7 linked regions of the Homo sapiens genome follow. The protein of the gene in region 1 interacts with the protein of each later gene in a biochemical or structural test. Each region holds a gene or a part of one and is shown in the gene's direction. Other genes may lie near its edges. The genes, in order: LDB3, RAMP3, KCNT1, SDK2, TMEM178B, APPL1 and FAT1.

Evidence for each region.
Region 2: the proteins of LDB3 (region 1) and RAMP3 interact in a test that uses a peptide from one of them, tested with the Homo sapiens proteins (one large-scale study listed by IntAct).
Region 3: the proteins of LDB3 (region 1) and KCNT1 interact in a test that uses a peptide from one of them, tested with the Homo sapiens proteins (one large-scale study listed by IntAct).
Region 4: the proteins of LDB3 (region 1) and SDK2 interact in a test that uses a peptide from one of them, tested with the Homo sapiens proteins (one large-scale study listed by IntAct).
Region 5: the proteins of LDB3 (region 1) and TMEM178B interact in a test that uses a peptide from one of them, tested with the Homo sapiens proteins (one large-scale study listed by IntAct).
Region 6: the proteins of LDB3 (region 1) and APPL1 interact in a test that uses a peptide from one of them, tested with the Homo sapiens proteins (one large-scale study listed by IntAct).
Region 7: the proteins of LDB3 (region 1) and FAT1 interact in a test that uses a peptide from one of them, tested with the Homo sapiens proteins (one large-scale study listed by IntAct).

The regions. Positions count from the first base shown.
Region 1 is NC_000010.11:86,717,011-86,720,510, forward strand, and holds part of LDB3 (LIM domain-binding protein 3), read left to right. Parts: intron 1-953; coding exon 954-1,134; intron 1,135-1,716; coding exon 1,717-1,837; intron 1,838-3,500. UniProt on the Homo sapiens protein: May function as an adapter in striated muscle to couple protein kinase C-mediated signaling via its LIM domains to the cytoskeleton.
Region 2 is NC_000007.14:45,178,291-45,181,790, forward strand, and holds part of RAMP3 (receptor activity-modifying protein 3 precursor), read left to right. Parts: intron 1-3,500. UniProt on the Homo sapiens protein: Accessory protein that interacts with and modulates the function of G-protein coupled receptors including calcitonin gene-related peptide type 1 receptor (CALCRL), calcitonin receptor (CALCR) and G-protein coupled estrogen receptor 1 (GPER1).
Region 3 is NC_000009.12:135,782,185-135,785,684, forward strand, and holds part of KCNT1 (potassium channel subfamily T member 1), read left to right. Parts: intron 1-1,839; coding exon 1,840-1,941; intron 1,942-2,350; coding exon 2,351-2,434; intron 2,435-2,576; coding exon 2,577-2,705; intron 2,706-3,125; coding exon 3,126-3,146; intron 3,147-3,500. UniProt on the Homo sapiens protein: Sodium-activated K(+) channel. Acts as an important mediator of neuronal membrane excitability. Contributes to the delayed outward currents. Regulates neuronal bursting in sensory neurons. Contributes to synaptic development and plasticity.
Region 4 is NC_000017.11:73,637,946-73,641,445, reverse strand, and holds part of SDK2 (protein sidekick-2 precursor), read left to right. Parts: intron 1-3,500.
Region 5 is NC_000007.14:141,080,564-141,084,063, forward strand, and holds part of TMEM178B (transmembrane protein 178B precursor), read left to right. Parts: intron 1-3,500.
Region 6 is NC_000003.12:57,262,229-57,265,728, forward strand, and holds part of APPL1 (DCC-interacting protein 13-alpha), read left to right. Parts: intron 1-3,500. UniProt on the Homo sapiens protein: Multifunctional adapter protein that binds to various membrane receptors, nuclear factors and signaling proteins to regulate many processes, such as cell proliferation, immune response, endosomal trafficking and cell metabolism.
Region 7 is NC_000004.12:186,615,857-186,619,356, reverse strand, and holds part of FAT1 (protocadherin Fat 1 isoform 1 precursor), read left to right. Parts: coding exon 1-1,649; intron 1,650-2,155; coding exon 2,156-2,352; intron 2,353-3,500.

The DNA.
Region 1 (3,500 bases):
CCAGCAGGATGCCTGGTGCCAGGAACTCCCCCTTGGGCTAAGGTTGAGGTCTGGGAATCACCAGGCTTGTCAGTAGGTTTACAGGGCATTTTGTTAGACAGTGTTGGTTTTGACCCAGTTTTCCTTTAGGGTTGTTTCTGGGTCTTTCCACAGACAGGCCTGGGCTGCTCAGGGGGTTGGTGGGCATCTGCCAGACTAAAATGAAAACAAGTGATTTCATACTTAGAAGCCATGGACCATGGGTGCTGTTGTTTGAATACAGTATGTTTGTGTGCATGTGTGGTGTGAGCTTATATACGTGAAAAATACACTTTTATTTAAAACTAAAGTAATACATACTCATTAGTGAAGAATTGGAAAACACAGAAAAGTAAAAATTAGAATATAAAAAAATGTCTTCATAGTCCCACTGTTCTGACTGCTAACCTGGAACTAGACAATACAAGTTTGTATCCTGGTCTACCACTTACTAGCCCTATGGCCTTAAACAAGTTGTTCAAACTCTGTGTGCCTCAATTCCCCTATCTAAAAATGGGTATTATAATAGTACCTAGTGCGTAGGATTGTTGTGAGAATTAAGCAAGTTAATAAATGCAAAAGTCTTCTTGAATAGAGCCTGACACAGAGTAATCACTTAATAAATGTTAGCCATCAGCATCATCATTATTGCATTTCTTACTATCATTATCAGTGGTCAACTGAATTCTATAATATGTTTACCCAGTCCCCTATTGGTAGATGTTTGAGTTGCTTCCTGATTTTCTTTATTGTAAGTGATGCAACAATGAACACCTTTCTGCATGGAGCTTTCTCTGAATTTCACATTACTTCATCAGAACAGTCACAAAAGTCAGAGTTATTGGGTAAAAGTATAAACAGTGTTGGGGTTCTTCAAATATCTAATTCCAAGTTCTGGGAGCTGCCTTACTGGGTGCCATTCTGTGCTTCCCCAGGGGCCCATTTCTGGTAGCCATGGGCCGTTCTTGGCACCCTGAAGAGTTCACCTGTGCCTACTGCAAGACTTCCCTGGCAGATGTGTGCTTTGTGGAAGAGCAGAACAACGTTTACTGTGAGCGATGTTATGAGCAATTCTTTGCCCCGCTGTGTGCCAAGTGCAACACCAAAATTATGGGGGTAAGTGGGAGGCCTCCATTTCCTCTGACCCATGTCTCTTCCCCAGCCCTTCCCCAAGATCGTGGGATCCCATTAGGAAGCCAAGAAGTTGCTGGTAACAGAGAAAGCAACTCCATTTTTATCCTAAAAGGGAATTGGTTTGCCACCAATAAACTTGGGGATAAATGAACTTGATGCAAGAGATGATTGTGTGCCTGTTCCACACAGCTTGAAGTGGTGGTGGAACTTCTGCAAAGCAAGTGGTTGCTTCACAGCCTGACCTTACCACTCACCAGAATGTGGCCTTAACCCTCAATGCCCCTTTGGTAAATGACAGTAATAAGCAGTACCTCCTCCCAGGTTTAATGGGAGGATTAAGCCTCACAGTTTATGTAAGAAAGCACAGAACCTGGCACCCAGCTGGAGAGTGACAACCCCTTCTCTGACACCCCTGGGTCTTTCTTCAGAGTGACCAAGGCCTGCATCCTGAGATCTCCTGCCCTGTTCCCTGGTAGGATGCTCGGGCAGTGGCTGGAGCCTGGTGGGGTAGTCAAGCCCGCTCCCTCTCTCCTTTCTGTCCTGAGCTTAGGCTCTTTCCCCCAGGAAGTAATGCATGCCTTGAGACAGACATGGCACACCACCTGCTTCGTCTGTGCGGCCTGCAAGAAGCCTTTTGGGAACAGCCTCTTCCACATGGAAGACGGGGAGCCCTACTGCGAGAAAGGTAGGAACACTTCGATGGCATGTGGGGAGGCCCCACAGCCTGGGAGAAAGGGGCAGGCACAGGGAACTAACTCCTGCCTAATCCATTCACATCCGACCACCCAGAGGCCTTTATTTCTGGAAGAAACCTTTGTTTTTGCTTTTAATGGCAGAATCATGCTAATATCACACAAAGGAAGTTAACTATCTCCCCTGCCCATATGGTTGCAGCTTTGGGGAGAGTGAGGTGCAGAGTCTATAGCTTATTTTATGCATCAAATATGTGGATCTGGTTAGGTGAGGTGGCTCACACCTTAATCCCAGCACTTTGGGAGGCCGAGACAGAAGAATTGCTTGAGCCCAGGAGTTTGACACCAGCAACATAGCAAGACCCAGTCTCTACAAAAAATATAAACATTAGCCAGGTGTGGTGGCGCGTGCCTGTAGTCTCAGCTACGCAGGAGGCTGAAGTGGGAGGGTCGCTTGAGTCCAGGAGTTCGAGGCTGCAGTAACCTGTGATAGCACCACTGTATTCAGCCTAGGCAACAGAGTAAGATCCTGTATCTCAAAAAAAAAAAAAAATGTAGATCACAAGTTGGCATCTTATGACCACTGGGAAACCTTTCAGGTTATTTTGATTTGGAGACCACAAGGTCTAGTCTGAAAAGGCCTTGGCTGTGGACTTTGTCCTTCATTCTATTCCTGGTTCCACTTTGGGCTGCTTTGTAAACCTGAGCAAGTTACTAACCTTCTCTGAGCCTTACTTTCCTCGTCTGTAAACACCTGCCTTACAGAGCTGTGGTGAGGATTAAACCAGAGAAGGCGTGTAGAGCATCAAATATGCGAGACCCCTTCCTCTGCCCCTGTGATATTTATCAGACTTTGATGTTCCTGCAGATTCCTGTAATCTCACGGAGTGAATTCAGAGTTTCTCTGTACCCCCAAAATGCTATATGTTATCTTAAAATGCTAAGTAAATTATTGTAAATTCAAGAGACAAAGCACTTCATTAGATAGGTGGAAGTCAGTCACTCATTTATTCAGAGGCTTCCCCCTTCAGAAAGGATTTGAAGCAGGTTCCAGAAAAGGTAACACAGACATGAAGGCTAAGACAGTAGAACCAGAAAATCAGAGGCGGGAAAAGCAGGCATGCTGATTATGAAGAATAACAGAGCTGCAGGGACTAACTGGGTAGCAAATTTGAGGGCAAAAAGAGAAACACAGTAAGTTAGTTTACTTTAAAATCAGAAAGGAGAAAACATTCAGTTCCTCAAGGGAAAAAGCAAAACAAAATAAAACTTCTTTCCCCTGACTGTAAATTAGAAAATAAACGTTTTGGCTGGGCGCGGTGGCTCACGCCTGTAATCCCAGCACTTTGAGAGGCCAAGGCAGGCGAATCACCTGAGGTCAGGAGTTCAAGACCAGCCTGGCCAAAATGGTGAAACCCCATCTCTACAAAAATACGAAAATTAGCCGAGCATGATGGCGGGCGTCTGTAATCCCAGCTACTCGGGAGGCTGAGGTTGAAGAATCGCTTGAACCCGGGAGGCAGAGGTTGCAGTGAGCTGAGATACTGCCGTTGCACTCCAGCCTGGGCAACACAGTAAGACTCCATCTGAAAAAAAAAAGAAAGAAAGAAAAGAAACGTCTTGGGTTCTTGTACTAGTGAATGCCCTTCCCAGCTC
Region 2 (3,500 bases), on another chromosome or scaffold:
CCTTACCTCCTTGGAAATTGCTCATGGCCTCACAGTCCTCTGCCCCACCCCACTCCACCTCTGGCTTTGCAGTCTTGTGCCACCCCCTGGTGGCTGCTGCCAGACCCTAAATGTGCTGGCCTCATGCTTTTGCATGTTAGCACCCCAGCCCCTGTCTTCCGTAGAGACACTGACCATGGCCCTGCCCCAGGAAGCCTCCCCGGCCCTGGCCATTCTAGTGGCCCAGCAGATGGGGGCTTCTTGAGGCTGTCACATCTGCAGCCCCACTCTGTGGGGGAACTGCTTGCTGAACCAAGTGGAATGGAATTCTGAGTCTGCTGGGAAGGGGTGCTGGGATTCAGGAAGGGGTTTTGCAGGCTCCTCCTGGTCCTCAGTGAGCCTGGACACAGGCCTGGAATGGACCCACTGGTGGGGGTGGAGTCAGGGAAGAGGAGGTCATAGCTTCGTAGCTTCTGGTCTTGCTCCTCTCTGTAACCCGCTAAAGCCTTGGTAAAGAGACTAAATAGAGATGTCCAGCCGTGGATTGGGAGGACAGGAGTGGAGGCAACCCGATGGGCATTTAGGAGCCAGTGAGTGAGTGGGCAAGAGCCACTGACTGAGTGCCCTTGGTGAAGTCAGACCTGATGCTGGAAAAGGGGAGCTGGGAACAGCCAGGTTGACATTGCGGAGCCCTCCCACGACCCGGCCGGCAGCACCAGCTCCCAAGAGAGTGGCAAGAGTAGCTGAGAAGCAGTGAGGTGTCCAGAGCCCTCCTCCACCCCAGCTGGACACTGGAGGTGTATTCTTGGAGCTGGTGACACCAGGGTTTCTGGGCCTTCCCATGTAATTGAGAACGTGGCACAGTGTCCCAGAGAGGGAGGCTGGAGAGAGCGGCTGATACGCATTATCTTTTGCCACTGGGTCCAGGAGGGTGGTCTAGGGTAGGATTGGAGCTGTCCTTTCTGAGGAGTGAGACCAGCCAAGAGGAAGGACCTAGAAGCAGTGACCCCCCCAACCCCTGGAAGCTCTGGGGACAAGCTCTTCTGCAGGGTCCCAGTGTCTCATCAGCTCTCAGTCCCCACTCCCAGTCACGAGTCACTTCCAAGCAGGGTCCCTGGAAATCTGACCTAAGGCTCTGACCCTGAAGGACAGAGACCAGAGAGATGGAACCAAGCAAACCCGGGGGCCATGCACCAAGAAGAAAACTGCAAACGTCACGACTGATATCTTCAGAGGGCAACAACTATCTCTCATGTGATGAATGAGAACAAAGAAAGAGGTTTAGAAATGGAAGATGCAATAGAAGTGAAATGGAATAGAAAGGTTGGAAGGGAGATGTTGAGGAAATCTCCCAGGAATAGGAGAGAGAGACAGAGAAGATGATCAGGAGGTCAGTGGTCAGTCCAGGCGTAACACCAAGATAGTAGGAATTCTAGAAAGAGAACAGGAGAATGGAAGGATAAAGGGCCCTTGCCAGGGGCTGAGGGCATGAGCTTGCAGCCGGTGAGGGCTTGCCCGGTACTAGCACGAGGGAGGAAAATGTCCCACATGGACCCTGGAATATCAGAGCTGTGGAAACAAAGGAAAACTTCTACACCTATCCAGAAGGAGGAAAAAAATGAGCTCTAGGTTGGAGATGAGGGGATCAGAGGCCTTCAGGCTCCCCCACCGCAGCCCTGGAAACCGAGGACTGTGGGATGCAAGGACCTGAGAATTTCGGACTGTGATTTCTCAGCTAGTGTGCTATTTCCCGCCAATTTGTCCACTAATTAGGGAGAAACGAAAATACTGTCAGACGTGTGGCACCTCCAGCATCTGATTCCCACATACCTTTCTCAAGCTCTGGCGGCTGTGCGCCAAGGTGTGGAGCAAACCACGACAAAAGAAGCTATGAGATTTGGGGAGCGGAGCCAAGGCAGGAGAGGGAAGCCCCAGGGAGGGCGGTGCCCCAGCGTGGCAGTACACCCTGGGTGGAGGCAGCCTGGCCCAGGTGGAGGGCACTTGATGCTTACCTGACATGGTGACTGCCTGCCCATGCCCTGCAGCCCAGCTCAGTCAAGAATGAAGGACACTCCTTTCTTTCCCCTGAATGTTCATTCTGCTTTGGTCCCCACTGAAGCAGGGTGGGCCTTGGTGAGCTTAGAGGAGAGGTGGCTTGCTCCCCTCAATAGGACTGGTCCACATGACGACCCCATCAGGAGTCGAGTCATGGCTGGGAAGACCCTATTCCCCAAACTCGCCCATGGCCTGCCTGTGGCCTTCCCTGGGGAGGAGTCTCATTGCCCCTCGGGGCAACCAGAGCGTGTCCTCTCCTGGGAACCTCCCTCCAATAGCAGCAATGGGCTCCTTCTGTACCCAGTTAAGGAGCATTGCTATGGGATTTCCAAATGCAACACTATATTGCCTGGGAACACACTCAGGTGGTGAAACATAAAGGAAGGTGGGCAAACACCCCAGAGGTGGGTGGGGGGAGAGGGAGTCTGACTGGGGGGTTTGCCCGGCTTCCAGCCTGCTGGGCTCCTCTCCTTCCCATCCTGGGTTGTGGTGCATCTTTTTTAGGGAGAGTGCTCTGGGGAGCCTGACTGAAGGAGGAGTGGAGAGGCCCCAGATTATCCAGGGGATGAATAAATCATAAGTAGTTCCCGGTTTTCTAGAGAAGCACTGAATGTGGACCTCTCTAGATATGTGACAAAAATGCAGATTTTGTGGATCCACAGAGATGGGTGCTGTGCTCAGCTCTGCCCCAAACCTAACAGCTGGGGTGGGCTCACCCCATGACCTCCTCTGTGCCAGGCACTTGCTGGGGCACATGGACCTCAACTCATTTGGTTCTCTCAACCACCTGATAGGATAAGTGTTATTAAACCCACTTACAGATGAGGAAACTGAGGTCCAGGGAGGATAAATGACATGGCCCATACCACAAAGATGGTGAGTGGCTGAGCTGGAGTTGGAGAGGCCCTGCCATGTTGGCTCTGCAACCTGAGCCTGAAGCCACTGTCCATGCTGTCTTCTGGGATTACCTCTGCTCCGTGGGCTTCTCCATGTGGCCTAGCTTTGGCTGGGAGTGGGGTTTGGGAACAGCAGGGGCTTTCAGCCCTGCCTCACCTCCTCTTGGGACGGTTCTGGGGCTAGACATCACTCCTCTTGCCCTGTAGACTCGCTGTCCACAGAGGGTCTTCTCCAGGGTCTGTCTGGCTCATCTCAGCCCTGGGGATGGTTGTTGGGGGGTGGCATTCCTGGGTAGCAGTTCAGTGGAATGACTTTGGAGGCACAGAGGTTACCGCATGTGATTCTCATCACACACATAGATGCTGGGAACTTCTGAAGGTGAAGGCTGTTGCAGGGTGTTGTTAGACGGCTCCCCAGCTCCTGGATCAGCTGGCGGGGGGTTGGGGTGGACAGCAGGCTACTGAATCTGAGGCCCTGTGGGAGAAGCAGGTCAGGGAAGATGAGGGTTTGTCCATGGACCTAGCTGTTGAGGTGTCTCTAATGCCTGGGCATGTCTCAGGTGCTGCATT
Region 3 (3,500 bases), on another chromosome or scaffold:
CAGAGCGAGACCCTGTCTCAAAAAAAACCAAGCAAAAAAATGAAACTATTATTAAGGATGCTGCTGGTGGGGTGACATGCATCTCCCCTTGAGGGCTGGCTCCAGAAGGCTCTCAGAGCCCCGGTGTGTGAGAGGAGTCTCTCCCCTGAGGCCCACCTCCCCTGCCGTCCACCTCCCCTGGTCTCCAGCACCCAGGACTCCTCCACCACTTCATTGCTTTCACATGGTCAGCCTGTGTGATCTCTCCTCCTCACCAGGAGCCTTCCTTCAGGCTGGCTCTGCCCATCCTGGGGCTGCACGGTGCCTGTCCTGCTCCCTCTGACCGGGGGTCTCGTGCTCAGGAAGGGCTCATCCGCTCCTGTGTGCTCCTGTCTTCACTGTCACTTGTGAATGGCACCCGCTCAGCCCCTGCTGAAGCCCTCCTGTCCAGAAAGCAGGAGGAAATCTCTGGAAGGTCCTGAAACGTCCAGCTTTTTCTTTCCTTCCACGTCTCTCTCTGGCCCTGTCGTGGTTCTTGTTTCCTGTTTAGCGTTGTTCTGAGTAAAGGAAAATTAAAATTGCAAGTTGTTCTGGAATTTCACGTTCGTCTCCGCGAAGTACGGCTGGAATTCTGGATGCAAATCACCACGATTGCAAACTCACACGCCCATCGCAGCTCATCGCACCTGGTTCTTGCCCCAAGAGCGGAAACGCCGCACGAAACTAATTCCACTGTTTCTCACGCCCCAGCCTTCCCACCGGCCACTGATGAGTAAGGGCGAACCCGGAGGAAAAGGGGCTTCTGCCTGCTTGTCCTGTCGCTGTCGTGTCTTTTACCTGTGAATCGAGTTCTGGTTCCGGGGGGAAGTGTGGCCTCCGTGGGCGCACACGCCTGCCTGTGCACACTTGCTTGGAGGCCGAGCTCCAGGGTTGGGGCCCTCCGCTGAAGAATGACCCGAGAGTTGGCCACGGCCGGGTCCGGAGCCCGTGGATGTACCGCCTCACGTGACAGAAGGGCCTCTGCAGATGGGATTAAGTCACGGGCCTCGAGATGGGAGATCCTCCTGGAGCATCCGGCAGGTTCACGCCGTCAGGGTCCTTCTAGGGAGAGGCCAGAGGTCCCCATCCGGTGGGAAGAAGCTGCACGGCCAGCTCAGAAGAGGGAAGAGGGAGCCACAAGCCAAGGCAGGTGGCCTCCAGGAGCTGGAAAAGGCAAGAGAAGGAGGCCCCCAGGCCTCCAGAGGGAGCGGGGCCCTGCCCAGGCCTGGATCCAGCCTGAGACACCTCAAACTCCCGACTCCAGAAACGGGAGAGAGGAGACAGGTGTCGTTTTAGCTGCTAAGTTTGCGGTCATTTGTTACGGGAGCCCCAGGAAACTCAGTGGGTCCATTGCAAGCCTGGAGCACAGGGACGGGGAGGCCAAGGACAGCAGGGAGCCCGATGCTTGCTCCTCCTCAGCCCAGACTCCACACGCCCTCCGGCACCACTTACAAAACACCGGGGGAGGAGAGGATTATCAGGAGGATTTGGAATTTCGGGATGGCAAGAGCAGGGCGCTTGACCAAGCGCAGTGCCCATGGCAGCCGCCGGGAGTCCACCTTCTCATCAGAGCCCCACATCACTCCTCCCGGGCTCTGGCCCTGAGTGTGTCTGGGAAGATAGAGCTGGTTCAGGCCTGCCGGTGTATGCACACATGCAGACACACACTGTGTACACGTGGACACACACACCATGCACAAATGTGCACACAGGTATCATGCACACATGTACGGTGCACACACAGTGCCCTCGACCCCGTGGCTGCCGTGCCACTGGAGGGACCTCGGCACCAGCCCATCTGAGGCCCCTCCTTTCCCACAGAGGGAGCGAGAGAATGGCTCCAACCTGGCCTTCATGTTCCGCCTGCCGTTCGCCGCCGGCCGCGTCTTCAGCATCAGCATGTTGGACACACTGCTCTACCAGGTCAGCGGGGAAGCGGCAGCAGGAGGGTGGCGCCTGGGTGGGACCCCCGTCATGCCCTCAGCTCTTCAGCCTGGTCCCTGTTCTGAATGATAGGACTCCCTCTGAATGACCTTCCCTGGATTCCAAGGAGACCTCTGGGCCCTGTCCTTGCCCCAGGGATTTCTGGGCCCTTTTTGACCTATGGGTGCCTGGCAAGGGAGTTTTCTTAGAAAAGGCCTCCCAGAACTCTGCCTGTGGGTCATGTGGTGCTTGGGGACCTGGTGGTTCTGTGTGTGTGTATGCATGAGGGGTGGCGAGCCCGTGGCCGGTGGGGTATGGACCTGTGTCCCACGCCCGTGCCCGCGTGCCTCACTGTGGCTCCCTCCCTCCCTCCCTCCCTCCCTCCCTCCCTCCCTCCCTCCCTGGCCAGTCCTTCGTGAAGGACTACATGATCACCATCACCCGGCTGCTGCTGGGCCTGGACACCACGCCGGGCTCGGGGTACCTCTGTGCCGTAAGTGCCCCTGGCTGCGCTGGGCTGGGGGCGTGCTGGGCTGTCCAAGTGGGTGGATGGGCACCTGCCCCTGATTCACGGTGGCCAGGAGGCTCTGGGTGCTGCCACCTGCCCCAGCCAACTCAGGGTTCCCACCCTGCAGATGAAAATCACCGAGGGCGACCTGTGGATCCGCACGTACGGCCGCCTCTTCCAGAAGCTCTGCTCCTCCAGCGCCGAGATCCCCATTGGCATCTACCGGACAGAGAGCCACGTCTTCTCCACCTCGGAGGTTCTGGGGCAGCCTGGGGGCTGGGACTGTGGCAGCCCCTGTCCTGTGTGACCCACAGCATCCCCACCTTCCGGGGGCTGGGACTGTGGCAGCCCCTGTCCTGTGTGACCCACAGCATCCCCACCTTCAGTGTCAGGGACCTGGGCTAGATCAGCTTTGCTATTGCTGGCAGCTCCTTCCGTCTGGTCCGTGTGCCCACGTGTAGCGCTTCCAGCTGGAGCAGCCATGACCCCTACCGGGGGCAGAGAGGCTCAGGGGAGTCTTCAGGAAGAATACGGGCAGCCCCTGTGCTGCAGTCCACACAGCAGCAGGCACCGTGCCCACCAGCCCTAAGCATGTTCCGTGCAGACCCCAGGCTGAGGCGGCGTGGGGGGCAGGGGTGCGCCCACAGGTCCCAGACTGCGCCTGTTTCCTTTGCAGCCCCACGACCTCAGAGCCCAGGTAAGCAACCCCTCCGTGCCCACGCAGCTTCTGCGGAGCACCAGAACATCGCAGCTTCACATGGAGAAGCCTGCCAGGCCCCACCCACCCACCCACCCACAGGGCCCTGGGAAAGCCGAGGCAGGAGCGGGTCCCACGGATGTGTCGGCCCCAGCACGGCTCAGAGAAGGCTGTTGACACTCACTCCCTCCTGCACTGGTGGTGGGGAAGCTGAGGCCTGGGGGGAGTAGCCTGTGAGTTTGGACACCAGGTGCACCCCCGCCCCCTCCCAGGCCCCACCAAGGCAGGCAGCCCCCATGCCCATCTGGCCTGACCAGCCCCCAGCCTCCCAGGCCTTTCTGAAGGTGCCACCCA
Region 4 (3,500 bases), on another chromosome or scaffold:
TTGGCAGCAGAAAGAACGGGCTCTCATGATCTGGCTTTGCCGCTTCGCTGAAGAGAGGCCTTCTGCAAGGCTCTTAGCCACTAAGAGCCTCAGTTTCCTCATCTGTACACTGGCAATAATAGCTCTTGCCTTGTAGAATTGCTAGGAGAATTCAAGATATTCCAGGGGCAGGGCCCCAGCCAGTGCCTGGCACATAGAAGGTACTTAATACATGGCAATTATTATTCTTGTTATGACGGTTTTAACATTAAGCTAGAAGTCCATGAAGAATGGTACCCTGCCACCCACCAATAAGACCTTGAATTCTTTTTCCTTACCCAGGAGGTTTCTTTAAATTCCTTCCATGGCCACATCACTGTGTCTCAAAGAGTGGCCCTCAAGCACTTAGCTCCCAGGGAGTTGTAGCAATGCAGATTCTTGGGCTCCGCTCCCAGACACTGATTGGAAAGGTCTGGGTGAGCCTGGAAGTCTTTTAACTAGAGTCTCGAGAGATTTCCCATGTGCTTGGAAGCTTGATTACTGCTGGAGGTCATCCTGGCCAGCCTGAGAGGTTGGGAGAAGGGCAGGAGCAGCCGAGCCAGCTGCTCCAGAAGTTTCTTTCAAGAGAATCATGCCTGGGGGGAGAACAGAAGGAAGGGAATCTGAGCCGAGAGAACAAGGCAGTGGGGACAACCCTGAAAGAGGACTGGAACCCCCAGCTCTAGAGGCTCCTGAAAGGCTCCAAAGGGAGAAAGTTTAGTGCTGGGAGCTAATCACAATAAAAGCCAACAGTACACAAGGGAGCGGGATGAAAGTTTAATTACATGGTGTGGCTAAGCTGTAATTATTAATTACTGACAGCAAAAAATAACTTATTGATCAGGGCCTTTCGCTAATTACCAGGAGGCCGAGTGTCGTGCTTGCCTGGGGCTCAGCTGTCAAAAGCCCCACTCGAGAGTGGAATGGGGGTGTCCCTGCTCTCCCATGCCCCTCTTTCCCTCACCCTTTGTACCCCTTGGCTTCCGCGGGGGAGTCCGGAACATTCTGGCAGTGGTTAGATGAGGGATACAGCTTGGTGCTTCCACTGGCTGCAGAAAATGGCCCCTGCCTGGGAGGAACAGAGTCAGGACCCCCACCCAGAGGCTACATCCCGCTGGCAGCCTGACACCTGCCTCGGAAATCCCACCCTCGACCCCCCCACACACACACCCCACCCCCGCTTCATGCATTTGTTCGGCAAATATTTATCGACTGCCTCTTCCTCGTGTCCTCTACTGGAAGGCCGGCATAGGGGCCAGGAACCTTGTTCTACAAGGGAAAGGAGGCTGGGAAGGAGGCCAAATTCTTTACAGCGATCCTCTGTTTAAACAGCGCCTGAATGGCTGACTTTAAAATGAAGTGTTAACCTGCATATTGGTCCACATTTGACTTTGTACCACAGGACGCAGTCGGGCTGTAAGCTAACAAGGAGGGGAGAATGGGCTTATCTTCTGTCCTAAGGACTAATGGGAATCATTGCATTTGACTTGAAAGACACACGAAAAGTCATCTAGGACCGTCGTCTGCCCACAAGGCCATCTGGTCTCTGCTTGCATACCCTTGATGATGGAGGACTCACTACTGCTCAACACCAGCTGGCTGTTAGCTATGTTTTATGCTGATGAAGAAATTGTCCCCTTATAGCTGGTTTTCCTAGGATCTGGCTGTGGTTGAAGGGGTCCTCTGATTGGCTGGAACCCTCTCCCTGTCCCTACGGACTCCCAGCCCCTCTGGGAGGCAGGAGGCTGAGTTGGAATTGATGTCGGGTGTTAGTGTGCGCCCTGCGGGGTTTCTACCCCGCTCCCCCTGGAGCATGTTGCCACAGACAGCCCTGGAGCTGCCTAAAGCGGTGGGAATTAGTCATCATAATTTGGGGCCTTGGGATGCCAATAGCAACAAATGGGCCAGCAGCAACTGGCGGCTGCAGCCCACTGCCTGTAATGGAAAGGAAAACAAGCTGGTTGCCGAGACACCCCGGGTGCCCCCTCCCCTAGGTGTCCCACCCCTGCTGTCCATGTGCTGGGCAGGAGGCAGAGCCAGTGAGCAGCGTTGAGCAGGGATGCTCAGCATCCCCGGGGGAAGGGAGAGAGGGGACTGCAGGGCTTGTCCCCTCAGACTCCCTGGGCCTGGTGCCTGGACCAAAAAGCCTCTTGCTGAGCCCAGGGAGCCCTGGGGAGACCCTTCTCCTGCAGACGTGGTGAATGGCTCCCAGCGTGGCTTCTGCCCCTTTGAATCCTGCCTCCATCACTGGGCGATGCTGAGCTGAGCCAGTTTTCTCATCTGTAAAATGAGTAAAGTTAAAAATAGTTGTGTCTACCAGCCAGGCACAGTGGCTCACGCCTGTAATCCCAGCACTTTGGGAGGCCGAGGCCGGCAGATCACTTGAGGTCAGGAGTTCGAGACCAGCCTGGCCAACGTGGGGAAACCCCATCTCTATTAAAAATGAAAAAATTAGCCAGGCGTGGTAGTGGGAGCCTATAGTCCAAACTACTTGGGAGACTGAGGCAGGAGAATCTCTTGAACCTGGGAGGCGGAGGTGGCAGTGAGCTGAGATCGTGCCACTGTACTCCAGCCTACACAACAGAGCGAGACCCTGTCTCATTAAAAAAAAAAAAAAAAAAGACTGTTATCTACCTTTTAGAGTTGTCTTGGATAATCAAATGAGATTGTCCAGATCACTTTGAAAATGCCCTTTGTAAATGTTAAGTTCTTATAATGTGTCCATTACAGTCCAGGAGGGTGTCCTGATCACTGCCCCTCTACTCCCCAGACATGAACCTCCCCTCCCACCTCATCTCCTCACTCCCCCTGCATTCACTCCTGTCCCCACACTGACTGCCTGTTGTTCCTGGAATTTACCAGGCCTCCAACCTGGCACTTGAAGTTCCTGCCTTTCCATCAGTGGTGCCCACACCACCCAGATGTCTACAAAGTTCACCCTTGTTTCCTCCAGGACTTCCTCCTAATATGTCTTATCCATCTCGGAGCACCCTATAACGTGGCATCTTCCAGCACCCACTCCCTCGCTCTCCATCATTTTCTCCATTGCACTCAGCTCCAGCTGACATATATTGACTTGTTTGTTTATTATTGGTGTCTCTGGAGGGCAGGGGCTTTGTTTCATTCACTGGTATATTTCTAGCCACTAGGGCAGTGCCTGGCACGTAGGAGGAGTCAGCATAATATGAAGACTGAATGAATGAATGAATGCTTACTGGAGGCATACAGCCCACGGTCATCTGGCCCCTCCCAGCTCTCCAGCTTCCTGCCAGGCCTCTCGCCCCATCTCCAGAGCTGATTGACTTGTGAAATGCCTCTCGTCTCTGTACATCCAGCACACCCCATGCCATGTAGCCCTCAGCGCACTGAGCAGCCAGGTACCTCAAGAGTGGGGGCCCCGCCCTCCAGCAGCTCCCGCAGATGCATCCATGGAATGGGGTAGTGTTGCCATTGAGACAGGAGTCCCTGCTCAGATTTTCTGG
Region 5 (3,500 bases), on another chromosome or scaffold:
GAGCCGAGATCGTGCTACTGCACCCCAGCCTGGGTGATAGAGCGAGACTCCATCTGAAGAAAAATAGTCATAGAGTAAAAATAATATCTAATATATGAATCGTGTAATATAGCACAGGGTAATGGGCACCATGAAGGTCTGCCCTTACGAAGCGCAAAGGGGAAGAATGACAAGTAAGGCAAAAATGAAATGCAGTCATGTGCCCTGTAACATTTTGGTTAAAGACAGACTGCAGTGGTCTCATAAGGTTATCATGGAGCTGAAAAATTCTTATGGCCTAGTGACATCATAGATGTCACAGTGCAGCAACCCATTACTCCTGTGTTTGGGTTGAGGCTGGTGTAAACAAAGCTACTGCACTGCCGGCGGTATAGAAGTCTAGCACAAACAATTATGTACAGTATGTAATACTTGATAATAAAATGACTGTTACTGGTTTATATATTTACTATGCTATACTTCTAATCATTGTTTTAGAGTGTACTCCTTCTGCTTATAAAAAAAAGTTAACTGTAAAACAGCCCCAGGTGGGTCCTTCAGGAGGTATTCCAGAAGAAGGCATTGTTATCAGGAGGTGACAGCTCCATGTGCACCATTGCCCCTGAAGACTTTCCAGTGGGCTAAAATGTGGAGGTGGAAGACAGCGAGATTGATGATCCCAACCCTCTGCAGGCTTAGGCTAATGTGTGTGTGTGTGTGTCTTAGTTTTTAACAAAAACGTTTCAAAAGTTGAAAAATAAAAAATTTTATAAACAGAAAAAAGCTTATAGGATAAGGATATAAAGAAAGAGCCTGGGTGCAGTGGCTCACACCTGTAATCCCAGCACTTTGGAGGTTGAGGTGGGTGGATCACCTGAGGTCAGGAGTTCGAAACCAGCCTGGCCAACATGGTGAAACCCCGTCTCTACTAAAAATACAAAAAATTAACCAGGCATGGTGGCACATGCCTGTAATCCCAGCTACTTGGGAGGCTGAGGCAGGAGAATTGCTTGAACTTGGGAGGTGGAGGTTGTAGTGAGCTGAGATTGCACCATTGCGCTCCAGCCTGGGTAACAATAGTGAAACTCCATCTCAAAAAAAAGAAAAAAAAAAAGAAAGAAAATATTTCATACAGTTGTAAAGTTAAAAGAATTAAAAAGTATATAAAGTAAAAAATCTACAGTGAGCTGAGGTTATTGTTGAAGAAAGAAAAATATTTTGTATAGTTTGGTGTAGCCTAAGTGTACAGTATTTATAAGGTCTACAGTAGTGTACAGTAATGTCCTAGGACCTCACTTTCACTCGCCACTCACCTCTCACTCACTGACTCACCCAAAGCAACTCCCAGTTTTCTAAGCTGCATTCATGGTAAGAGTCTCCACAGGTGTATCATTTTTTGTCTTCTCTACTGCATTTCGACTGCATCTTTCCTATGTTTAGAAACACAAATACTTACCATTGTGTTATAATTGCCTACAGTATTCAGTACAGTAACATGCTGTTCAGGTTTATAGCCTTGGAGCAATAGGCTATACCACATAACCTTGGTGTGTACTAGGCTACACCATCTAGGTTGTGGAAGTACACTCTGATGTCTGCATGACGACAAAATCGCCTAACGATGCATTTCTCAGAACATATCCCTGTTGTTCAGTGACATGTGACTGTAGTTCCATACAAGGAGGCTTTGGGTGTTGCAGGGAAAAGAGGTGGTAAAACTAATATAGACTGGAGTTCAGGAGGTTTCATTAGCTGAGGGACCTCCACAGGCTCTTTCTTTCTGCATTCTTTATTGAATTCCTAGAGGGCAGGAACTGTTTAATGTCTAAAACACACTTGGGGTCCTGTACTTAGTAGGTTCTGAAAAACTGTTTGCTGATTAAAAAACTTAAGACATACTCACCTTCAAAGAAACACATGCAAACATCCATAGTCTTGTATACATGATGTGCACCTCCTTGCGTATACGCCATGTGTATGCCCATATGTAATAAATAAACACTCATAGTCCCATCTCTCCTCCTCAATCATCCTAAAACTCAACTAACCAGTGAGAGTCAGTGATTCAAGAAGAAAACCTGTGACTTACTGGGCAAATGAATGGATGGAGTAAAGAGATGTGTTTTGAGCACCTGCTGTGTGCAGAGCTCTTTGCTACGTGTGGAGGGAGAACAAAAAGGCATGGTTGGTTCCTGTCCTAAGGGAGCTTACACTCCAGCTCATGGTTTCCCAAGTTCATTGTCATGTGCAGTGGTATCAGGTGCTTCCTCAGGAGGTCTTACCTGCATCAATTGGATAAGGAATCAACTAGTCAGGGAATGCAGGAGTGAGCTCTTTTTATTGAGTCAACAAAGTCTAGAGCCTTTTTTTCTGTTGAAGAGGTCAGTTTATTTATTCTTTTACTGTAGGGTCAATTAGAGGATCAATACTGTGTATTCCACTTTGGATTGTCAGTTGAAAACATTTCCCCCTCTTTGCTATTAGTAAGTAATCCTAGGCCTTCAGGCAGAATGCTAAACACACTTGGGTTAGTTTGACCCATCATACACAGACACGCACACCTCCCCCCACACACATCTAGATGTTAGATGTTACAATCACAAGCGTCTATTTAGATGCAGATATGTTTGTAACTTACTACTCCCAAACAATCCACAGAGAGAGGAGGAAGGGTGTGACTTGGTGAATGAATAGATGGAAAAATCATCCTAATGTCTTGATTGCTGTTTTCGAGAGAATTCATATATTCTTTTATATGACTTATTTTCTCATATGTAAAATAATGTGTTTAGATTCTATAAACTCCAAGCCCTTTCATACTTTTACATTTGATGAGAAAGTTAGATTTAGGTGTCAAAGAGTAGATAATAGGTACATGGTTGAGGGAGGGTGAAAAGAGGGGCAAGGCAAAAGTTGATGGGGGGTGGGAAGAGAAAGAGGAAGGGAGGGAGAGAGAGAGAGAGACAGACAGACAGACAGACAGACAGATGTGAGAGACAAAGCAATTTCTAAAGAGATCATCCTGGGTTCTAGTTTGCAATAGGAATAGCTAATTTCTTACCACTCTAAAAACATGTAATAAAAACGAACTTTTCCTCTTTCAAATGGCTTGAAATGTGATTTGCAGTTCAGGGTTTAAAATGAAAAACCTAAGAGAAAGGTGATGACAGATGCACAACACTGTCAATGTACTTAATGCCACTGGACTTTAAAAGTGGTTAAAATGGTAAATTACCCCAAGGAAAAAAAAATACATTTAAACACTCAATAGAGAAAGGAACTGGATTCTGTTTAGTGTGTGGAATACTTCGTAGCCAAGGCTCTTCATTCATTCAGCAGAATTTTTTTTTTTTTTTGAGACAGAGTCTCGCTCTTGTTGCCCAGGCTATGTAGCTGGGATTACAGGCACATGCCGCCATGCCTGGCTAATTTTCGTATTTTTAGTAGAGATGGGGCTTTGCCATTTTGGCCAGGCTGGTCTCGAACTCCTGACCTCAGGTGATATGCCTGCCTCGGCCTCC
Region 6 (3,500 bases), on another chromosome or scaffold:
TTGGCTATGCAGACACTTTTTAGTTTAAGTCCCATTTGTTTATTTTTATTGCCTATACTTTTGAGGTCTTAGGCATAAAATCTTTGCCGAGACCAATGTGCAGGAGAGTTTTCCCTTCATTTTCTTCTAGTGTTTTTTTTTTCTATGGAAAATAACCTTTTTTTTTTTTTTTTTTTTTTTTTGAGACAGACTCTTGCTCTGTTGCCCAGGCTGGAGTGCAGTGGCACAATCTTGGCTCACCGTAACCTCCACCTCCTGGATTAAAGTGATTTTCCTGCCTCAGCTCCCAAGTAGCTGGGACTACAGTTGTGTGCCACCATGCCCGGCTAATTTTTTTAGTAGAGACAGGATTTCACCATGTTGGCCAGGCTGGTCTTGAACTCCTGACCTCAAGTGATCCACCTGCCTTGGCCTCCCAAAGTGCTGGGATTACAGGCATGAGCTGCCACACCCAGCTGGAAAAAGAACCTTTAATAGAACAATTATTGAGAATATCGTACTAACAAAGTTTCTCAAGAGACTAATTAGAGCTAAAATGGTGAAAGTAGGATGATCTTTGTTTTTCGTTTTTTGTGGGTACAAGGGGTGTGTGTGTGTGTGTGTGTGTGTGTGTGTGTGTATGCATTTTTTTTTTTTTTTCCAGATGGAGTCTTGCTGTGTCACCTGGGCTGGAGTGCAATGGCGCGATCTTGGCTCATTGCAACCTCCGCCCCCTCGGGTTTAAGCGATTCTCCTGCCTCAGCCTCCTGAGTAGCTGGGTCTATAGGCATGCGCCACCACGCCCAGCTAATTTTGTATTTTTAGTAGAGACAGGGTTTCTCCATGTTGGTCAGGCTGGTCTCAAACTCTCGACCTCAGATGATCCGCCTGCCTCGGCCTCCCAAAGTGCTGGGATTACAGGTGTGAGCCACCTCGCCCAGCCAGGTGTATATATTTATGCAGTACATGAAATATTTTGCTACACTTATGCAATGCGTAATAACCACATCATGGAAAATGGAGTATTCCTTCCCTTAAGCATTTATCCTTTGTATTAGAAACAATCCAATTATACTCTTTTAGTTATTTTTAAATGTACAATTATTATTGACCGTAGTCCCCCGTTCTATCAAATACCAGGTTTTATTCATTCTATTTTTTTTTTTTAATCATTAACCATCCTCCCACCCCCCATCCCCACACTACCCTTCTCAGCCTCTGGTAACCACCCTTCTGTTCTCTGGCTCCATGAGTTCAATTGTTTTGATTTTTAGATCCCACAGATAAGTGAAAACATGCAATATTTGTCTTTCTGTGCCTGGCTTATTTTGCTTAACATAATGACCTCCATGTTCCATATATCTTATTGCAAATGACAGAATCTCATTCTTTTTTATGGCTGAATAGTACTCCATTGTATGTAAGTACCACATTTTCTTTATCCATTTTCTTTATCCATGTATCATCCATTCAAATGACAGAATCTCATTCTTTTTTTCTGGCTGAATAGTACTCCATTGTGTGTGTGTGTACATTTTCTTTATCCATTCATCTGTTGTTTTTTTTTTTTTTCCATTCATCTGTTGATGGACACTTAGGTGGCTTCCAAGTTTTAACTATTGTGAACCGAGCTGCAGCAAACATGGGAGTGCAGATGTCTCTTCAATATACTGATTTCCTTTTTTTAGGTATATACCCAGCAGTGGGATTGCTGGATCATATGGTAGCTCTATTTTTAGTTTTTTGAGGAACCTCCAGACTTTTCTCCATAGTGGTTATACTAATTTACATTCCCACCAACAGTGTACAAGGGTTCCCTTTTCTCCACATGCTTCCCAGCATTTGTTATTGCCTTTTTGCTATAAGCCATTTTAACTGGGGTGAGATGATACATTGTAGTTTTGATTTGCATTTCTCTGATGATCAGTGATGTTGAGGACCTTTTCATATGCCTGTTTGCCATTTGTATGTCTTCTTTTGAAAAATGTCTATTCAAATATTTTGCCCAGTTTTAAATCAGATTAAGGTTTTTCCTATAGAGTTGTTTGAGCTCTTTGTATATTCTGGTTATTAATCCCTTGTCAGATGAGTAGTTTACAAATATTTTCTCCCATTCTGTGGCTTGTTTCTTCACTTTGTTGATTGTTTCCTTTGCAGTGCAGAAACTTTTTAACTTGATGAGATCCCATTTGTCCATTTTTGCTTTAGTTGCCTGTGCTTGTGGGGTATTACTCAAGAAATTTTTGCCCAGACTGATGTCCTGGAGAGTTTCCCCAATATTTTCTTGTAGTAGTTTCATAGTTCAAGGTCTTAGATTTAAGGCTTTAATCCATTTTAATTATATTTAAAAAAATTTAAAAAAAAATAAAAAAAATAAAAAAAAATTTTTTTAAAAAATATTTTTGTATATGGTGAGAGAGAGGGGTCTAGTTTTATTCTTCTACATATGGATATCCAGTTTTCCCGGCACCATTTATTGAAGGGACTGTCTTTTCCCCAATGTATATTCTTGGTGCCTTTGTCAAAAATGAGTTCGCTGTAGTTGTGTGGATTTGTTTCTGGATTCTCTATTCTGTTGCACTGGTCTATGTGTCTTTTTTTTTTTTTTTTGCCAGTACCATGCTGTTTTGGTTACTATAGCTCTGTAGCATTGTAATTTGAAGTCAGGTAATGTGATTTCTCTAATTTTGTTATTTTTGCTCAGAATAACTTTGGCTATTCTGAATCTTTTATGATTCCATATACATTTTCAGATTGTTTTTTCTATTTCTGTGAAGAATGCCATTGGTTTTTTGATAGGGATTGCATTGAATCTATAGATTGCTTTGGGTAGTATGGACATTTTAACAATATTGATTCTTCCAATCCATGAACGTGGAATATGTTTCCATTTTTGGTGTCCTCTTCAATTTCTTTCATCAGTGTTTTATAGTTTTTTGTTTTTTTTGTTTGTTCTTTTGAGACAGAGTCTCATTCTATTGCCCAGGCTGGAGTGCAGTTGCATAATCTCGGCTCACTGCAATGTCTGCCTCCCAGGTTCAAGTAATTCTCATGCCTCAGCCTCCCAGGTACCTGGGATTACAGGTATGCGCCACCACCACCTGGCTAATTTTTGTATTTTTAGTAGAGATGAGGTTTCACCATATTGGCCAGGCTGGTCTCAAACTCCTGGCCTCAAGTGATCCACCTGTCTCGGCCTCCCAAAGTGCTGGGATTACAGGCCTGAGCCACTGCGCCCAGCCTGTAGTTTTCATTATAGAGATCTTTCACTTTGGTTAACTCCTGGGTATTTAATTTTATCTGTGGCTATTGTAAGTGAGATTACTTTATTTATTTCTTTTTCAGATTGTTCACTGTTGGCATATAGAAATGCTACTAATTGTTGTATGTTGATTTTGTATCCTGAAACTTTACTGAATTCATCAGTTCTAATAGTTTTTTGGTGGAGTCTAGGTTTTTCTAAATATAAGATCATCATATCATCTGCAAACAAGGATAGTTTGACTTCTTCCTTTACAATT
Region 7 (3,500 bases), on another chromosome or scaffold:
CTGTGTAAAAGCCTATGATGCAGACAGTTCAGACATAGACAAGTTGCAGTATTCCATTCTGTCTGGCAATGATCATAAACATTTTGTCATTGACAGTGCAACAGGGATTATCACCCTCTCAAACCTGCACCGGCACGCCCTGAAGCCATTTTACAGTCTTAACCTGTCAGTGTCTGATGGAGTTTTTAGAAGTTCCACCCAGGTTCATGTAACTGTAATTGGAGGCAATTTGCACAGTCCTGCTTTCCTTCAGAACGAATATGAAGTGGAACTAGCTGAAAACGCTCCCCTACATACCCTGGTGATGGAGGTGAAAACTACGGATGGGGATTCTGGTATTTATGGTCACGTTACTTACCATATTGTAAATGACTTTGCCAAAGACAGATTTTACATAAATGAGAGAGGACAGATATTTACTTTGGAAAAACTTGATCGAGAAACCCCGGCGGAGAAAGTGATCTCAGTCCGTTTAATGGCTAAGGATGCTGGAGGAAAAGTTGCTTTCTGCACCGTGAATGTCATCCTTACAGATGACAATGACAATGCACCACAATTTCGAGCAACCAAATACGAAGTGAATATCGGGTCCAGTGCTGCTAAAGGGACTTCAGTCGTTAAAGTTCTTGCAAGTGATGCCGATGAGGGCTCCAATGCCGACATCACCTATGCCATTGAAGCAGACTCTGAAAGTGTAAAAGAGAATTTGGAAATTAACAAACTGTCCGGCGTAATCACTACAAAGGAGAGCCTCATTGGCTTGGAAAATGAATTCTTCACTTTCTTTGTTAGAGCTGTGGATAATGGGTCTCCATCAAAAGAATCTGTTGTTCTTGTCTATGTTAAAATCCTTCCACCGGAAATGCAGCTTCCAAAATTTTCAGAACCTTTCTATACCTTTACAGTGTCAGAGGACGTGCCTATTGGAACAGAGATAGATCTCATCCGAGCAGAACATAGTGGGACTGTTCTTTACAGCCTGGTCAAAGGGAATACTCCAGAAAGCAATAGGGATGAGTCCTTTGTGATTGACAGACAGAGCGGGAGACTGAAGTTGGAGAAGAGTCTTGATCATGAGACAACTAAGTGGTATCAGTTTTCCATACTGGCCAGGTGCACTCAAGATGACCATGAGATGGTGGCTTCTGTAGATGTTAGTATCCAAGTGAAAGATGCAAATGACAACAGCCCGGTCTTTGAATCTAGTCCATATGAGGCATTCATTGTTGAAAACCTGCCAGGGGGAAGTAGAGTAATTCAGATCAGGGCATCTGATGCTGACTCAGGAACCAACGGCCAAGTTATGTATAGCCTGGATCAGTCACAAAGTGTGGAAGTCATTGAATCCTTTGCCATTAACATGGAAACAGGCTGGATTACAACTTTAAAGGAACTTGACCATGAAAAGAGAGACAATTACCAGATTAAAGTGGTTGCATCAGATCATGGTGAAAAGATCCAGCTATCCTCCACAGCCATTGTGGATGTTACCGTCACCGATGTCAACGATAGTCCACCACGATTCACGGCCGAGATCTATAAAGGGACTGTGAGTGAGGATGACCCCCAAGGTGGGGTGATTGCCATCTTAAGTACCACGGATGCTGATTCTGAAGAGATCAACAGACAAGTTACATATTTCATAACAGGTAAAAAAAATTCATACCAAACGGTTTAATTAATTTAAAATGATTTTTAGAAGCATAAAGTATAAGATCTGTATTGTATGGAAATTGGGGATTTAAGGGATGATTTTAGTTAAAAATATCTAAAATAATACGTAGAAATAACATCTGTTGAGCCTCATTTCAAGCTTGTTACCTGAGCAAAGCTACCAGTTGTTTCATTAGACTGTTTTTGATTTTTGTGACTCATTCTTTTGAACCTTATACTTAGTGTATAATAAATATAATTAAAAACATCTATAGTTTTAATGCAGGCTAAATGATTAGTAGTCTTAATGCTATGTTTATGCATTTTAATGCTGCCCTTGTTTTTGTAAATTGGAAGGCTAATATATGCCAAATTAATTCTTTTAATACTCAATTCTTTTAAACTATAACATTATACATCTTTTGTACAGTTTATTTTTTCTGTTACTTATTTTTATCCTTTCAACAAATTTGATTATTATCTTCCTCCATTGATTTAATAGGAGGGGATCCTTTAGGACAGTTTGCCGTTGAAACTATACAGAATGAATGGAAGGTATATGTGAAGAAACCTCTAGACAGGGAAAAAAGGGACAATTACCTTCTTACTATCACGGCAACTGATGGCACCTTCTCATCAAAAGCGATAGTTGAAGTGAAAGTTCTGGATGCAAATGACAACAGTCCAGTTTGTGAAAAGGTAAGCAGCTCTTCCCTTACATTTGTGTGTTATGAATTTCAATTTCTTAATTCTTTCAATGGGACCATCATTTGGCGCTGTGGTGTAATTCACATGTGTTTTATGATCACTTACTGATTAAGCAGAGGTGTTAAATGGGGTAAGACTTGGAAAAGCTTCAGAACTATTTGCGGGAATGCTCAATAAATCAAAAGCCTCATTCTAGAAAACTAAATTACGGACAGGACTCCAGTTGCATCCAACACTGAAAATGCTCTGTAACCTTTTCATGAGGGGATTCTCTTAATATGGGGATACAGCTGTTTTGGGGGAAGGATCTGACGGGAAACAAAGTGCCGACGTGCCGTGAGACACTGTTTTGGGGGCATCTGCTCTTCTGCACGCTGGAGAAGCTCAGAGGTGGACAGCGTGCTTCCTGCATCTGCGCGGCTCACCATTCAGTGGGAACTAAAAGTAGACGTAGGAAGGGCTGCTCCCTCCAAGGTTAGATGAGGGCATGTGGCTCGAGCAGGGGTGGTCCCTGGGGCCAGAGGGTGAGAAGGGCTGCCCAGAGAAAGGGCTGGCTCAGCTTCGGGGGGCAGTAAGTGGGTCGTCAGGAGTGGGTGGGGAGGGGCCATGGAGTGTGAGGAGGGATTGTGGGAGTAGCCACTGAGTTTGCCAGAAGTGGGGAGTCTGCACTGAGAGTCTTGGAAAAGGGTGAACTGGATTACAGTGGGCAGTGGCGGTCGTTCCAAGGGATTTGAACTCGATCCTAGAGAAAATAGGGACTTTGGAGCCTTTTATATCGGTAAGGTAGAGATGACATGAGACGAGTTCTTAAGCTTAGTTTGGAAGCATCGTGCCCATTATTTAGACAGGGAGGAGTGGATGCAAGGGGGCCCTGGAAAGGCAGAGGTGGGGAAGGAGTGAAAGGACCAAAGCCACCACCGAGGAAGACCATCTGGTGTGACAGCCAGCCAGCATGCCATCGAGCCCGACTTTCTACATGAGTAGGGGGAGCGACCAAGGCCGTGGCAAAGAGGAGTCTGAGCCGGGGGCTGGTTTTAGAGGAGTTCCGTGTTGAGTTCCAATTCCAGTTTGCTAAAGTAATGAGACATACAGTTGACCATGTTTTTTAGACATTGAGAGATGGCGAGATGTTGGATGGG